Linked DNA regions of Homo sapiens. The protein of the gene in region 2 purifies or fractionates together with the protein of the main gene of each other region. This does not show direct contact. Each region holds a gene or a part of one and is shown on either strand. Other genes may lie near its edges. The genes, in order: ARMC6 and MPC2.

The links.
Region 1: the proteins of MPC2 (region 2) and ARMC6 purify together in Homo sapiens (co-immunoprecipitation; one large-scale study listed by IntAct). This does not show direct contact.

Annotation. Positions count from the first base shown.
Region 1 is NC_000019.10:19,039,956-19,043,781, reverse strand, and holds part of ARMC6 (armadillo repeat-containing protein 6), read right to left. Parts: intron 1,097-3,826; exon of another isoform or gene 1,072-1,096; coding exon 905-1,071; intron 1-904.
Region 2 is NC_000001.11:167,919,987-167,923,812, forward strand, and holds part of MPC2 (mitochondrial pyruvate carrier 2), read right to left. Parts: intron 646-3,826; coding exon 561-645; intron 105-560; coding exon 1-104. UniProt on the Homo sapiens protein: Mediates the uptake of pyruvate into mitochondria.

The DNA.
Region 1 (3,826 bases), on a different chromosome or scaffold from region 2:
GGAGCAGAGTGGTAGTGAGGCCGTTGTCACACAAGGCTGTCATCACAGGCCACGTCTGTGCAGTGAGGTGCCACATGCTGCCTGGTGGGCTTGGTGGGGGAGGGAGGGACCCCACAGCCTTCTCCCTTGGGGCTCCCATCCCTCCTGGCTCTGGCTGCATTCTTGCCCCTGCTGGCACCCCCACAGGGAGCCCCTACAGTGCTGGACGCTTTTGCTTGTCCCACTGGCCCCTGTCTAGTGTTCTATACCCCACTCTGTGCCTAGGAGGCTGACCTCTGACCTCTCAGGCTGTACCCTGGGTTTGTTCAATGGGGAAGTGAACTTGAGATGGGGGCAGGAGGAGGGGAGTGTGGGGTGTTCATTCCCAGCCCCCTGCCTCTGCCCCAGGGCCCAGCACCCATCATGTGGCCCCTGCCCAGGACTCCTGCTCCCTGCAGTCAGGGTCTCTGCCGGAGCTAGTTGTGCTAGGGGTGGTCTCCTAACCCCACCCACACCATTGCAAACAGCCCCTCATAACCACACTCATCTGCACCTGGTCTGAACATGCCACCTGTTTCCACAGGCTGCTTCTGCCTCTGTAAGCTCGAGGTAGGGTAGAGTAGGGCAGGGAGGCAGGGGCCCTGTTTCCCAGGCCAGGGTCAGGGAAAGTCTCTTCAAGGAAGTGATCAAATGAGACTCATGAGAAGGATCCAGCCCACAAATATCTGGGCGAGGTGGAAGCAGGTGAGAGGTGGGAGCAGGATAACCAGCCTGCCTCGGGCAGAAGCTGGAGGGGACAGGGCCCAATGGCACCTGGTTTCTATGCCAGGCATGTGGCACCCCCAGTGGGGCGGGGCAGCAGGGCTCTCCCACTGCTCTTGCATCTAAGAGCCAAGGATGGTAGGTGACAGTCACACCACCCTACCTTGCGATTCAAACTGCTCCACGGCCTCTTTCACTGCCTCCTCTGGCCCCATCGCAAACTCCTCGATGTTCTCGCGCACAGCTGCATCAAAGGTCTCCTGGGCAATGCGCTTGGAGACCATCTTCGCCTGTGTTGATGTTGGCGTGCAGCCGATAGATGCTCCTGAGCTGAGAGGTTAGGGCAAAGAGAGAGCTACCTCAAGGGTGAGCAGGCAATGGCAGGGCCTGGCCACCTTGAAAACGCCACTTAGGAAGCATCTACCAGCGACCAGAGCCCTACAACCACCCTGGAGAAATTCTTCCCACCTGTTATCACAGGAAAGGGTGATATCCCTACTTCCCTAGAACTTCTGCAAATACAGAAGAGGCCGGGTGTGATGGCTTAGCCTGTAATCCCGGCACTCTGAGAGGCCGAGGTGGGAGGATCACTTGAGCCTGGGAGGTCAAGGCTGCAGTGAGCCATGATCACACTACTACACTCCAGCCTGGGCCACAGAGTGAGACCCTGTCTTGGGAAAAAAAAACAAAGTGTAGGAGAGAACACAGAGTTTACTACATTTTATCTAAGAAAGGTGGTTCTTTAATATAATGATACTAGTAATGTTATTCTGAAACTATTACGGATGTAGCAAATAATAATGATTATCTTATTAGGAATCAGAATAAAAGAAAAAAGATTCTGGCTGGGCGCAGTGGGTCAATGCCTATAATCCCAACACTTTGGGAAGCTGAGGCAGGAGGATTGCTTGAGCCCAGGAGTTCAAGACCAGCCTGGACAACATGGCAAAAGTCTGTCTCTACCAAAATAAAAATAAAAATTAGCTGAGTGTGGTGGCACATGCCTGTAGTCCCAACTACTCAGGAGGCTGAGGTAGCAGGATCGCTTGAGCCTGGGAGGCCAAGATTGCGCCACTGCACTCCAACCTGGGCAACAGAGCAAGCCCCTGACTCAAAAAGAAAAAAAAAAGATTCTAACATCGTACTATCAACTAAAAACTCGGAACTCCCTATAATTAACAATATTGTATGGTATACTTGAAATTTGCTAAGAGGGTAGATTCTAAGTGTTCTCACCACAAAAAAGAAAAAGGTAACTGTTGATTGAGGTGAGTATTTCACAATCTGCATGCATATAAAATCGTCAAGTTGTATAATGTAAACATATGCAATATATTTGTATCATTTATGTACCATATATAGTATAAGATATACACTATATTAAATACAATTCGCTGGGTGCAGTGGCGCATGCCTGTAATCCCAACACTTTGGGAGGCCGAGGCAGGTGGATGACCTGAGGTCAGGAGTTTAAGACCAGCCTGGCCAGCATGGTGAAATCCCATCTCTGCTAAAAATACAAAAATTAACCGGGCATGGTGGCGGGCACCTGTGATCCCAGCCACTCGGGAGGCTGAGGCAGGAGAATCATTTGAACCCAGGAGGCAGAGGTTGCAGTGAGCCGAGATTGCACCACTGCACACCAGCCTGGGCAACAGAGCAAGATTCCGTCTCAAAAAAAAGTACATCCTATACCTCGATAAAGTTGAGAAAAAAAATCTCAGAACTCCTATATATGAAATGGGAATATCCATATAAACCCATCATGTGTTTTCTCTTAGGTAAACAAAGATCTAATTTTCTAGTCATAGCAACTAAAAATGCCTAGGAGAAATGACAGCACAGGAGCACTGAATACCTCTAACACCATGTATGGTTTCTACCATTTCCCACGAAAAGGAGCTGGGGCCAGGGCTAGGTGGCTCACTCCTGTAATCCCAGCACTTTGGGAGGCTGAGGCAGGAAGATGGCTTGAGGCCAGGAGTTCAACACTAGCCTGGACAACATGGGGAGGCCCTGTCTCTACATAAAATCTTTAAAAACAAGGAGCCAGGGCTTCTGGAGGAATGGCTGATTCCAAGTCCCAGCAGGTCATGGGGCAGGTAACGCTGGGGTCTTGTGAGACCAGGAAGCAAGGAAGCTTCCAAACCCTAAGGGATGCCTGGTAGCTACAGATGAGACAAGTGAGCATTAAAAAAAAATCCAGTACATATCAAAATCAAAATCTGGGCCAGGTGTGGTGGCTCACGTCTGTAATCCCAGCAATCAGGGAGACCGAGGTAGGAGAACCACTTGAGCACAGAGGCGGAGGTTGCAGTGAGCCGAGATCATGCCATTGCACTCCAGCCTGGCTGACAGTCAGACGATGTTGCAAAAAAAAAAAAAAGTCAAACTCTGTGCTTTCATAATACTAAAACAAATACAGCTCAGGCTTCTGAAAACTGGCCAAGAATCCAGCTCTTGGCAGGGAGTGGTGGCATGCTCTTGTACTCCCAGCTACTACTCAGGAGGCTGAGATGGGAGGATCACTTGAATCCAGGAGTTCAAGACCAGCCTGGCCAACGTAGCGAGACACTGTCTCTACAATAATTAGTAACAATTTTTTTAAAAAAAACCTAGCACTTAACCTGCCTCCCTTGTACAAATGAGTCCCAGGTTATAAAAAGAGGATGAGGAAAAGTTCTGCTTCCGATTCCAGCTGATCAGCTGTGACAGGAGAGAAACAGATAATGATCCCACAGGATCCAAAACCATCAGGTGTAAAACTGATGGGAGCCCAACAAGGGGTAGACAGGAACTCAGTCTACTGCTTGATCTCACATCATCAAGAGAAACCAGCAACACCTACCTCCTGAACAAGAACAAAATGCACCTGTGAAGTCATCGTGCCAAAATCTCAAACCCGAATCTGATCATGCATTCAGGGCACTTCCTGCTATGATGAAACGTTCTCTATCTGCACTGCCTAGTACAGAAGCCATTGGCCTCTGTGGCTATCACACAGCTGAAGTGTGGCAGTGTGGCTGAGGAACTGAGTGTGTAATTTTATTTCATTTTAATTTGTTAATGTAAATAGCCATGTGTG
Region 2 (3,826 bases):
ACGAAAAAGCTGAGAGGCTCCTGCTGCCCCCACAAAGAAATTAACAGCAAACAGACTCCAATTTTTTGGAATAATTACAAGTGAGTATCTTGACCAAATAAACCCTGTTGAAACAAAATGTTACTTTAAAAAGAATACATACTGCTTCAATAACTTCAGTGAATACTTAATATTGAGTAAAGTAATTACAACAATAATGTAGGATGAGGGACAAAGAAATGCTATACTCTGAATTTTCAATGTTTCTGTAACTTAGTGTCACAGAAAATACTCAATTCTTACATGAAAGAGGAATCTTTAAAGTGACTATTAACTGTAATTTTCTTCCCACTTATAAAAATATGTTCATGGCAAAAACCTGAAAAGCAAAAGCCCATTCAGATACTTATTCTTTCTGTGACTCCTCCATCCATAACTTAATAACTTCCTAGACATAATACTGTTAATTCCTTTGTGTGTGGGTGTATTTCAAACACTAAGCCACTAAATAAACTGATATAAAAGAAAACAAAAATCATTTATGTTCTACAAGAAACACAGAAGATATTTATTTAATTTACCTGTAGCCATCAAAACAGCAGATTGAGCTGTGCTAAGTTTTTCTGCAGGTCTGGCCATATCAGCCAATCCAGCACACACCAACCCCTACACATTAACGCATAGAAAGAAAAAAAGTATCACAAATGTGGAGTAATAGTTTTAACTTTAAATCAAGCACAAGACATTTTTGAGATTTCCGTAAGTTAGCAGCTATAATTTTAGTGTCCATTCATTAAGAAAATGTAGATTACAACAAAAAAAAAGCACAATGAATTAAAAAACTGCTTTTTGAACTAATTTTATTTTGTTAGGTACACTAAGCAGTCTCACATATCTGAAAGTCAGTAGTACATATATAGATAAGATGTATATGTATGCATTACACGTACATATATATTTTGGGTTTTTTTTGGTCTACCTATTTCACATATGAATTTATATACTCTTTATATATGTCAGGAACCACTAACCACTAGCATGGAAGATACCTAAAAGCTGTTAAGGTCATTTGTATAGATTCTTCCTTTGATGTTTTCTGCCAATGTTATCATTTTTAAATTAAATTAAATTTTAGATTTGGGGTATATGTGCAGGTTTGTTACATGGGTATATTGTGTGATGCTGAGGTTTGGGCTTCTAATGAATTATTTTTTAAAAGTATAAATATCAGAAAAACTTATAATTTTAGTTTTTTGGTTAGATCATTTTTTTTTTTTTAGACAGTCTCACTCTGTCACCCAGGTTAGAGAGCAATGGTGCGATCTAGGCTCACTGCAACCTCCACCTCCCAGTTTCAAGCAATTCTCATGCCTCAGCCCCCAAGTAGCTGGAATTACAGGCGTGTGCCAATATGCCTGGCTAATTTTTGTATTTTTAATAGAGACGGGGTTTCACCATGTTGGCCAGGCTGGTCTCAAACTCCTGACCGCAGGTGATCCGCCCGCCTCAACCTCCCAAAGTGCTGGGATTACAGGTGTGAGCCACCATGCCCGGCCTTGGCTGTTACGCCATTTTTCTTTAACATCAGCATATACATGGCCATTTCTCTTCTGTGTTTTTAACACTGTCTCTATTGCACTCATGCGTTTTTGCTCCCACCAGATGAGCTGTATTTTTACCAAGTCACTATGTTTGTCCCCAATCTATTTATGCCAGTTTTACTTGTTAATGTAATTTACATGATTTAATAAATTGTTTTTTTTTAAAAAAACTAAGCTGGAAATTATATAGGATGCACTGTAGTGTAATTTATCCAGGATAGAAAATGTGGAGCTCAGAAATCCATACACAAATAAAAGATTTAGCTTTAAAAAAGACTGATTGTCAATGAATATATATTTATATCCTTTAGGTTAAAATAAAATATTTAAGGTACATAGGTTTTTGTTTTTAGGATTATCCACTTTGACCTTTATGATTAGTTATGTGGTTTCAACTAAAGTGGTTACAAAGGACTCTACTACAGTTATATGTTTGAAGGCATATGGTCTGAGAGTCTTCATGTTATAGAACATATGTGGCTTGCAGAAGCAACTGTTATGTGTCATGTATAGAATTCTACAGATTAATTATCAAATACTCTGGGATAGTAAAACACAGTAAGAGGTATATAAGGTAAGTATCTAATAGAAGAAGTCTCCCCACCAGAGAACAAAACACAGAAGTTTCTATTGCTATGCTGTCATCTGGAGACTATGTATGATTTCAACATGTACTTAAAATAGATGTTCTTAAAGAGACAGATAGTCAAGAAGGCATTTATGAGTATATAATGCTGTCAATATCTCACAACAGTAATGAACCAGTTCAAATAAACCCCAAAGCTATTGATAAAATCAATAAACTCCTAAACTGTGGTAAATTTGAGATCAAAGAGGCCCCTAAATTTATTGTGAATAGATGAAATCACTCAAACTCTTTTAATGATTGAATACTTCAGCAATCAATTCCACTATAAAGATATATTATTACTATGTAATTTTAAGTGTAGGTAGGGAGAGAAGAAGGAAATGGTAATGTAACTTCCATTAGTATAGGGGGTTTTAGGATCTTTTCTCAATATGTAGATATGAAAAAAAAAACCTGCTCCCTAGATCTCTGTAAAATACAGCTCCCGAATGACTTATATTCTAATCTTGTCACTTTATAGTTGAAGAGACAAAATGACAAAGAGACTAAACTTGCCCAAGGCCATAAGATTGAGTCATAGCCAATTCCAACTCTAACATTCTCAACCACTTGAATTTACAACTGAGTTTCTGAATTGTTCTAACCATTTTAAAAGTACATTTAAGAGAATTACAACAGCCCATCACTCAACAACAACAAAAAACACCTTGATTAAATTAAAAAACAGGCAAAGGACTTGAATAAATATTTCTCCAAAGAATATACACAACTGACCAATAAGTACAATAAGTATATGTTCAGCATGACTAATCATTAGGGAAGTGCAAATAAAAACAAAGATATCTAACACCCATTAGGTGCCTATCATAAAAACAAAAACAAAAATGCTCCCCCATCAAAAGTAACAAGTGTTGGTGAGGATGTGGAGAAATTAGAACACTTATGAATTGCTGGTAGAAATGTAAAATAATGTAGTTGCTGAGGAAAACAAAAAATATTAAGCAGAATTATCATATGATCTAGCAATTCAACTTCTGGGTGTATACTAAGAAGAATTAAAAGTATTGACTTAAACAGATTCTTGTACATCAATGTTCATGGTAGCATTATTCACAACAGCAAAAATGTGGAAGCAAACCAATTGTCCAATCAACATATAGAAGAATAAACAAAATGTGGTAAATACATACAATGGAATGCTATTCAGCATTAAAAAGAAAGGAAAGTGACACATGTGACAACGTTAATGTACCTTGTGGACATTATGCTAGGGGAAATAAGCCAACTACAAAAAGACAAATACATTTTGATTCCATTTACATGAGGTACTTAGAGTAGTGAAATTCATAGAGACAGAAGGTAGAATGGTGGTTGCCAGGGACTGGGAGAAGGAGAATGGGGAATTATGGGTACAGAGACTTGCTTTTACAAGATAAAAAGGGTTCTGGAGATTGGTTAACAATGATGTAAATGTACTTAACGCTACTGAACTGTACACTTTGAAAATGGTTCAGATAGTAAGTTTTATATGTATTTTACCACATTAAAAAAAAAAAAGCCTACAGACCAGTGGTTTTCAAACTTTAGAGGGCATTAGAGAATCATCCGAAGAGGTTATGAAAACAGAGCTCACTGGACTCCACATCTAGAGTTTCAG